Homo sapiens: one gene and its partner. The protein of the gene in region 2 purifies or fractionates together with the protein of the main gene of each other region. This does not show direct contact. Each region holds a gene or a part of one and is shown on either strand. Other genes may lie near its edges. The genes, in order: PSMF1 and SPMIP6.

What was found.
Region 1: the proteins of SPMIP6 (region 2) and PSMF1 purify together in Homo sapiens (affinity purification with mass spectrometry; 2 studies listed by BioGRID and IntAct, with this or other methods). This does not show direct contact.

What each region holds. Positions count from the first base shown.
Region 1 is NC_000020.11:1,131,986-1,135,801, reverse strand, and holds part of PSMF1 (proteasome inhibitor PI31 subunit), read right to left. Parts: intron 682-3,816; coding exon 496-681; intron 1-495. UniProt on the Homo sapiens protein: Plays an important role in control of proteasome function. Inhibits the hydrolysis of protein and peptide substrates by the 20S proteasome. Also inhibits the activation of the proteasome by the proteasome regulatory proteins PA700 and PA28.
Region 2 is NC_000009.12:34,380,527-34,384,342, forward strand, and holds part of SPMIP6 (sperm microtubule inner protein 6), read right to left. Parts: intron 2,344-3,816; coding exon 2,228-2,343; intron 1,600-2,227; exon of another isoform or gene 1,194-1,599; intron 1,184-1,193; exon of another isoform or gene 919-1,183; coding exon 843-918; intron 765-842; exon of another isoform or gene 606-764; coding exon 376-605; coding exon of another isoform or gene 371-375; intron 1-370. UniProt on the Homo sapiens protein: May participate in intramanchette transport and midpiece formation of the sperm tail. May play a potential role in somatic cell proliferation.

The DNA of each region.
Region 1 (3,816 bases), on a different chromosome or scaffold from region 2:
ATTTTGGAAAACTTCTGAACTTGATAGTGAGATTGGGGGACTACAATGAAATGAAATGGGCAAGACACTGGGACTGCATCTCCTCTGGGCTAGTACCTCTACATGTTTACATTTTCTCAGAAAGACTGGCCCAGGGCCCTGTCTAGACAAAAAGCTCTGGAATGAATTAGCTGTGAATTACCTGGGCAGCAACCTTAGACTACTGCACATAAGCCCCAGAGGCACTGATCCTTGGACAGACTCAGGGGCTCTGTGTGGCCCCTAGAAAGAAATCAGGCAGGCTTAGGATTTTGGGTAATTAGGGTGACTAGTAGCAGTTCAAGAACTCACTGCTCCACTTACGTCTCCACTTTCTAACTCCATGCACCCCAAGACACTGATCATTTTGTTGAAAACACATACGGGCCAGGGATGGGGTCAAGTGGCAGGATGGGGATAGCTGGCTGGAATCCCTCTACAGAAGCATGGGCTTCCCGCTAGGCACTCTGTACTCACCAGGGAGGCTGCCGACTGGTGTGTGGGTGGTGTGGAGGAATCCGGAGTGGGTCCACCTCTCTGGCGGTAGCAGGGGGGAACTCCCGGTGGGGACTGCTTACATTAGCCTTTTCCCACTGCTCATGGATAGGTGTGATGATTCCAGACACAATACGAGACCGAAGCTCCTCACTGTTCTTGTAGGTCCTGCAGGAAGCAGATGAAGAGTCAACTGCTTGCAGTTGGCTAGGAACCCTGGAAGTGGTATTCTGGCTGCAACGACGGCGGCGGCGGCGGCCCTGATAGCTCCTGGCATTGCGCTTGGCCTGTTTATAAGTGGGGGAACAGGCCGCCTGCTGGACCTGGGTGAGGGGGGCAACAGCCCCACGCTGTCTCTGAGATTTGGGCCCAAGCTTCTTAGGCATCTGAGTTGCCCCTCCTTGTTTACCACCCCATTAGAAAGAGGTGAGGGTGTAGGGGCACAGGGCCTGGATTGGCTACTCCTCTGTCCTCACCCGCCTCACCCCTCCCTCAGCTTCATTGTGTGTTCATCACGTGTCATGGGAAGGGTCATGGAAGGCAAAGGCTCCATGGGGAGGATGAACCAGGTTCCTGTTCCAGGCAGGCAGAGCTCTGGGGGTTCAAGGTCCAGTTCTGTCACTAACTCAGGGGTCCTCGGAAGGCTGCCCCTACCACCTGTCCCATCCTGCCTGGGCCTCTTTTTCTATGCCTGTGAGAGACAAGTGACGTGAGCCACAGCTGAGGTGTGGAGGCAGGCTGAGGTAACAGAGTGGGCAGGACTCCAGGCTTCCTAAAACACTGGTATTTTAAAATGAACCACATCCTGGCCCATAAAGCAAAGCTCACAAATGTAAAATAACTGAAATCATATAAAGTATGTTCTCCAACCATATGGAATCATAACAGAAATCAAAACAAAAAGTTAACTCTCTAAATACATGAAAATTAAGCAACATACTTCTAGAAAATCCTTGGATCAAAGTCACAAAAAAGAAATATATAGCACTGAATTAAAATGAAAATAAAAACATACGAAAATATGTGGGATATAACTAAAGGATTGCTGAGAAGAAACCTCATAGCACTAAATGCTTACATCAAAATAGAGGAAGGAATTCAAATCAATAACCAAAATTCTGACCTAAAGAACCTAGAAAAAGAAGAGCAAATTAACTCAAAGCAAGCAGAAGTAATAAAGGTAAGAACAGAAGTCAATAAAAAAGAAAAACAAGAGAGAAAATGAAACAAAGTCAATTCTTCAAAAAAAAAGAATAAAACTGACCAACTCCTGGCGAGACTGACAAATACAAAGAGAGGACACAGTCACCAATAACAAGAACGAAACAGGAGATATTACAATAGATCTGTAGCCACTGAAAGGATAATAAGAGAATACTAAGAACAACTTAATCCAACAACTCAGAATAGACCAATTCTTAAAAACCATAAACTACAACTCAGCCAAAATGAAATAGATAATCTGAATAGTTCCATTAAAGAAACTGAATTACACTTAACATTCTAAAAAAATAAAATAAAAAAACAAAAACCAAAAATCTCCAGGCTCAGATGATTTCAGGAAGAATTCTACCAAACATTCAAAGAAGAATTAACACCAATTTTACAGTCACTTCTAGAAAATATATGAGGAGGGAATACGTTCCAATCCATTTCATGAGACCAGTATTACTCTGGTATCAAAACCAGGCAAAGACTACACCAAAAAAAAAAAAAAAATATATATATATATACACATATATAGACTAGTATATCCTATGAACTTACACACAAAAAAAATCCTCAACAAAATATGAGCAAATTGAATTTAAAAATGTATAAAAAGAACTATATGCCATGACCAAGTATGATTTGTTCTAGGCATGCAAGACTGGTTAATAGTCACAAATCAATCAACGTAATCTACCATATCAATAAGCTATGGAAGAAAAATCATATGATCATATCAATTGATACAGAAAAAAGCTTTTGACAAAATCCAACATGATAAATCCATTCAAGATTAAAAACTCTCAACAAACTAAGAATAAAGGGGAACTTCTTTAACCTGATAAAGAACATTTACAAAAAACCTACCCCTAACAATATACTTTACTGTGAAAGACTGAATGCTTTGCTCCTAAGATTGGGAACGAGGAAAGCATATTCTTTCTCATCACTCTTATTTAACATAATATTGGACATCCTGACCACTGCAATAAGGCAAGAAAAACAAAAGGCATTCATATTAGCAAGTAAGGAATAAAACTGTCCCTATTTGCAAATGACATGATAGTCTACCCTGAAATTCCCAAGGAATCTACCAAAAAAAAAAAAAAACAAAAAAACCCTAAACACCTTGAATTCAGCAAGGTGACAGGATAGAAGAGTTCAACACAGGAAAATCAACTACATTTCTACACACTAACAATGAACATTTGAAAACCAAAACAAAGGACAGAATATGCCATTCATAATCATCTCCCTTTCTGCTTTAAACAAATAACAAGCTATGTACAGGATCTATATGTTGAAAATTACAAATGATACTGATGGAAATCAAATAAAACCTAAATATTAATAAATGGAGAGATAAGATATATCATGTTCATAGCAAGAATGTCAATTCTCCCCAAACTAATCTATAGGTTTAATGCAACTCCTATCAAAATCCTAGCAAGGTTTTTCATAGATATACACAAGCTTACTCTAAAGTTTATATGAAAAGGCACAGAGGCCAGGTGCGGTGGCTCACGTCTGTAATCCCAGCACTTTGGGAGGCTAAGATGGGTGGGTCACGAGGTCAGGAGATCGAGACCATCCTGGCTAACATGGTAAAACCCCGTCTCTACTAAAAATACAAAAAATTAGCCAGGCATGGTGGCACGCATCTGTAGTCCCAGCTACTCAGAAGGTTGAGGCAGGAGAATCACTTGAACCCCGGAGGCAGAGGTTGAAGTGAGCCAAGATCACACCACTGCACTCCAGCCTGAGCCTTTTTGAGACACAGTGAGACTCTGTCTCAAACAAAGAAAAAAAAAAAGAAAGAAAAAAGAAAAAAAAGAAAAGGCACAGAACCTAGAATAGCTACAACTACCTTGACGAAGAAAAAGTGGGAGGAATTATTCTACTCAATATTAAGGCCTACAATAATCAATACTGATAGAGTAATATTGACAGAGGAAGAGACATAGAGATCAATGGAAAAGAACAAGGGATCCAGAGATAGATCCACAGATGTACAGACAACTGATTTTTGACAAAGTTTCAAAAGTAATTCAATGAAGGAATAACAAATGATGTTGGGGCCATTGGACATCCATG
Region 2 (3,816 bases):
GTCCAGGAAAGGGGGCAGGGCCAAGGAGATGGGGGAAGAGGATGCGACTGATGTGCGGGGTTTCTTCCTCAAAAACCCTCTGACGGGACCTCCAGAGCATATAGAGAGGCCAGGTTGACCTTGAGCCCAGTTTGAGAGGGACAGGGGTCGGGGACTTGGAGTAACCTTCGTGCTGGTTCTCCCGCCTCAGTTGTTAGTTCAGGCCTTGGAGCCCGAGGGCGGGACACGGCAGGGCCTCGAGAGCGTGCAGCGCGGGGCTAGAGCAGGCTGGGGGCCTGCACGGAAGCTGGCCGGGCTGGAAGGGGGCGGGGTTCTGGGGCGGGGCTTGTGTGGGGTGGAGCCCGGCTGAGGCGGGCGGAGCCCTGCGAACCTTACAGTCGGTTGCTCCCGGCACCAAGGCCGCAGGCGGCGGTCGGTGCAGGGCGCCCCGCTGGCGTAGTAGTCCATCCCGCGCAGACAGTAGTGGCGGCCCGAGCAAGCACTTTCGTAACCATGGAAGGGCAGGCGGCCGGGCAGCGGGTCCACGCACCCGCATCGGGGCGTGATCCGCGGCAGCTGCTGGTTCCGCGACAGTGAGTTCAGCATGTTCACCATCACTTCGCGCTCTGCTCCCGCGGGTCCCCAGCGCAGGAGACCCAAAGACAGATGCACAGGGATGGGAAGAGGCCGAGTCACGGACAGAGTGAGGCGGAGACAAAAGCCAGGACGGATAGATTCAGGGTTCCACCCTCTCCAGGACCCTCGGCCTCCTCCCCGTCCTTCAGGTACCCATCCCGCCCTCCTCCCGGCCTTCCCCAACCCTCTCCACCCGTTCTTTCCAACGCCCCACTACCACTCTTTACCGTAGGCATTGAGCCGCTCCGGCCTAGGAGGGCATTCCAAGGGCATTCCTCGAACTGCTGTCTCCATCCTGGCCTCCTGGAAGCGGCACACATGCTACCTCAAGCTCTGACCTGGCAGAGCTGCTCCCTTTTAGGGGTCCTCCCAGAACACCCAGACCTATCGCCACGCCGCAACTTCTCCCGCCCTTCAGCAGCTCCCCACCTCTCCAGGGCTCTGTGTTGGCGGCTGTCACCGGGCAACGCTTTTACATCGCCAACAGGGGCGGGGTGGGGTAGGAAGGGCTGAAGGTGGATGGGGTTTGGCTCCTGGGCCTGTGACAACCCTGTCTCAGCGTTTGCCTTTGATTTTACCCCTCTTTGTCTAGCTGACTCTGTTTAGCTGTGTCTGGGTGTCTCTCTAATAGGGGGTTTTCAATATTGCTTGTCATTCCGGAGAACTTGTGAAAGATTCGATTCTTGAGGAAGTTCTAATTCAAAAGGGTTCCATCAACCCAGGGTCAGCCATCAGCCTGCAGTTAAGAGCCCCGGCTCTGGTTTTGGGTCCTCTCAGGTGCCCTTGAGTTTGCGGCCGTGGCTGGACCTTCTCCTATGTCCTTGGAAGACTCTCCTGTATCTGCACTGCTATTGAGTAGCCTTAGTCTTTCTCCTTCCGTCTGTGCTCACATCACAAAGGAGGAGAAGGTGGAGCAGGGAGATTCATTGTATCACTGACTCCTTGGCTAGCCCCAGTATCACAGAGGCCAGACTATATGGGGAGGGGCCAGCTGGCAAGCTTCGGAAAGGTAGTATATCAAGGAGTGCACACCAGTCATGTCCCTACAGAGCCCAGCCAGGGATTGGAGCCCAGGGCACCCAATCCCCAGAGATTGAGAGCCAGGGGCCCAGCACAGCCCTACTTTTGGGTTCCTTTTTCAACTAAAAAAATTCAAACCCGGCCAGGTGCAGTGGCTCATGCCGGTAATCCCAGCATTTTAGGAGGCCGAGGCAGGTGGATCACTTGAGGCCAGGAGTCCAAGACCAGCCTGGCCAACATGGCAAGATCCCCGTCTCTACTAACAATACAAAAATTAGCCAGATGTGATGGCGCATGCCTGTAATCCCAGCTGCTCGGGAGTGTGAGGTAGCAGAATTGCTTGAACCCAGGAGGCAGAGGTTGCAGTGAGCCAAGGTTGCGCCACTGCGCTCCAGCCTGGGTGATAGAGTGAGACTCTATCTAAAAAAAAAAAAAAATACAAACTCTAGTTTCACAGATGCGGAAGAGCTCTGGGGCATTTGTTGGGAAAGCAATGAGGACCTAATGGTGAAATATCAGTCACTGTAGTTTGGGAGGTGGTGGGGTATGCGTGTCCCAGTCCCCAGACGTCTGTGCTGGGTGCAACAGATACCTTAGGCAGCCGAGGAAGGTAGGTGGTATACTTGTTGCAGCAGCTGCTGTTGTAAGGTTCCATCCTCCATGTGTTGTACCAGTCACTGCCCAGGTAGTTTGGGCTGCATTTGTCTGCTGGATAATAGGGGTGGAGATGTCAAATAGTGTTACTTCTTACTCTACTCCAGGATCTGAGATCCCCTACATGTTTCTCTTCCGATTCCCAGCACAAAGCTGACCCTCACAGACTGTCCTCAAGCCAGAGACCCCAAGCCCAGCCGGGCCTACACTTGTCTTAAACACTGAGATGCAGCCCATGTCCCATCTAAGGCAACCTTCTGAGTTTAGTCTGGATCCACTGTGCCAGCCACTTTTCATCCTGCCACTACCCTTTTTGAATCAGCCAGCCTGGACAAGGAGCCTCTTCCCAATTCCTCCCTCTCTCTCATCTTCTACTCTAGGCTCTAAGGTTTGCCTATTCTGCCTCCTTCAAAATCACTCGAATCTGGCCAGGCAAGGTGGCTCATGCCTGTAATCCTAGCACTTTGGGAGGCCAGGGCAGGCAGATCACTTGAGGTCAGGAGTTCGAGACCAGCCTGGCCAACATGGCAAAATCCTGTCTCTACTAAAATACAAAAATTAGTTGGGCATGGTTGGTGTGCGCCTGTAAACCCAGCTACTCAGGGGGCTGAGGCATGAGAATAGCTCAAACCAGGGAGGCAGATGTTTCAGTGAGCCAAGGTCATGCCACTGCACTCCAGCCTGGGTGACAGATCAAGACTCAGTCTCAATAAATAGATAAATAACTTGAATCTACTTCCTCTTCCAGTGCCCCATGATCTCACTTCCATATCTTTGCAGCACCTTAACCAGAAGACAATATAATGTCTTGGTTAATAGATACCTATCTCTGCAGATAGACTGCTTGTGTTTAAATTTCAGTTTTACAATTATTATCTGTGTGACCCTGACTGAATTAATTAATTTTGATGTGTCTCAGTTTCTCCAACTTTAAAATGGGGATAATAGTACCATTTACTTCACAGGGTTGCTGTGAGGTTTAAGTGAGTTAGTATATGTAAGACATTTAGAATGATGCTTGGCACATAAAAAACTATTATGATTATTCTACTGTTATCCTTGCCTCACCTTTGAAATCCTATAATCCAGCCTTGACATAGCACCTGTGGTACTTTTCACAAATGAAAATTTGACCAAGACACCCTCCTACTTAAAACCCTATAGGGTTTGTCTGCCTTAGCCCCCAGTCACCTAAGCCTGTCCTACAAGGCCCTCCATGATCCAACAGTCTGAAAGAATACATATGCGACACGGTGTGGAGGAAGCCCTAGCGAAGAGCAGCTGTCTGAGGGGAGGGGTGCAGTGCTGGGATTTGGAGTTCGGGGATGGCAGTTTGCACATACTGAAACTGAGGTGTTTGGGGACATCCAGATCAAGATGACTATAAGCATATGAAGAAGAGTGGAATTCTGATGAGAGGACAAATCTGGAAATTAGGATTTGAAGCTGTCAGTAATTAAAGGCTTGTGTTAAATCAAATGGCCTTGGAGGAGGAGCAAGGGGAGAAGAGGGTGCAGGATAACACCC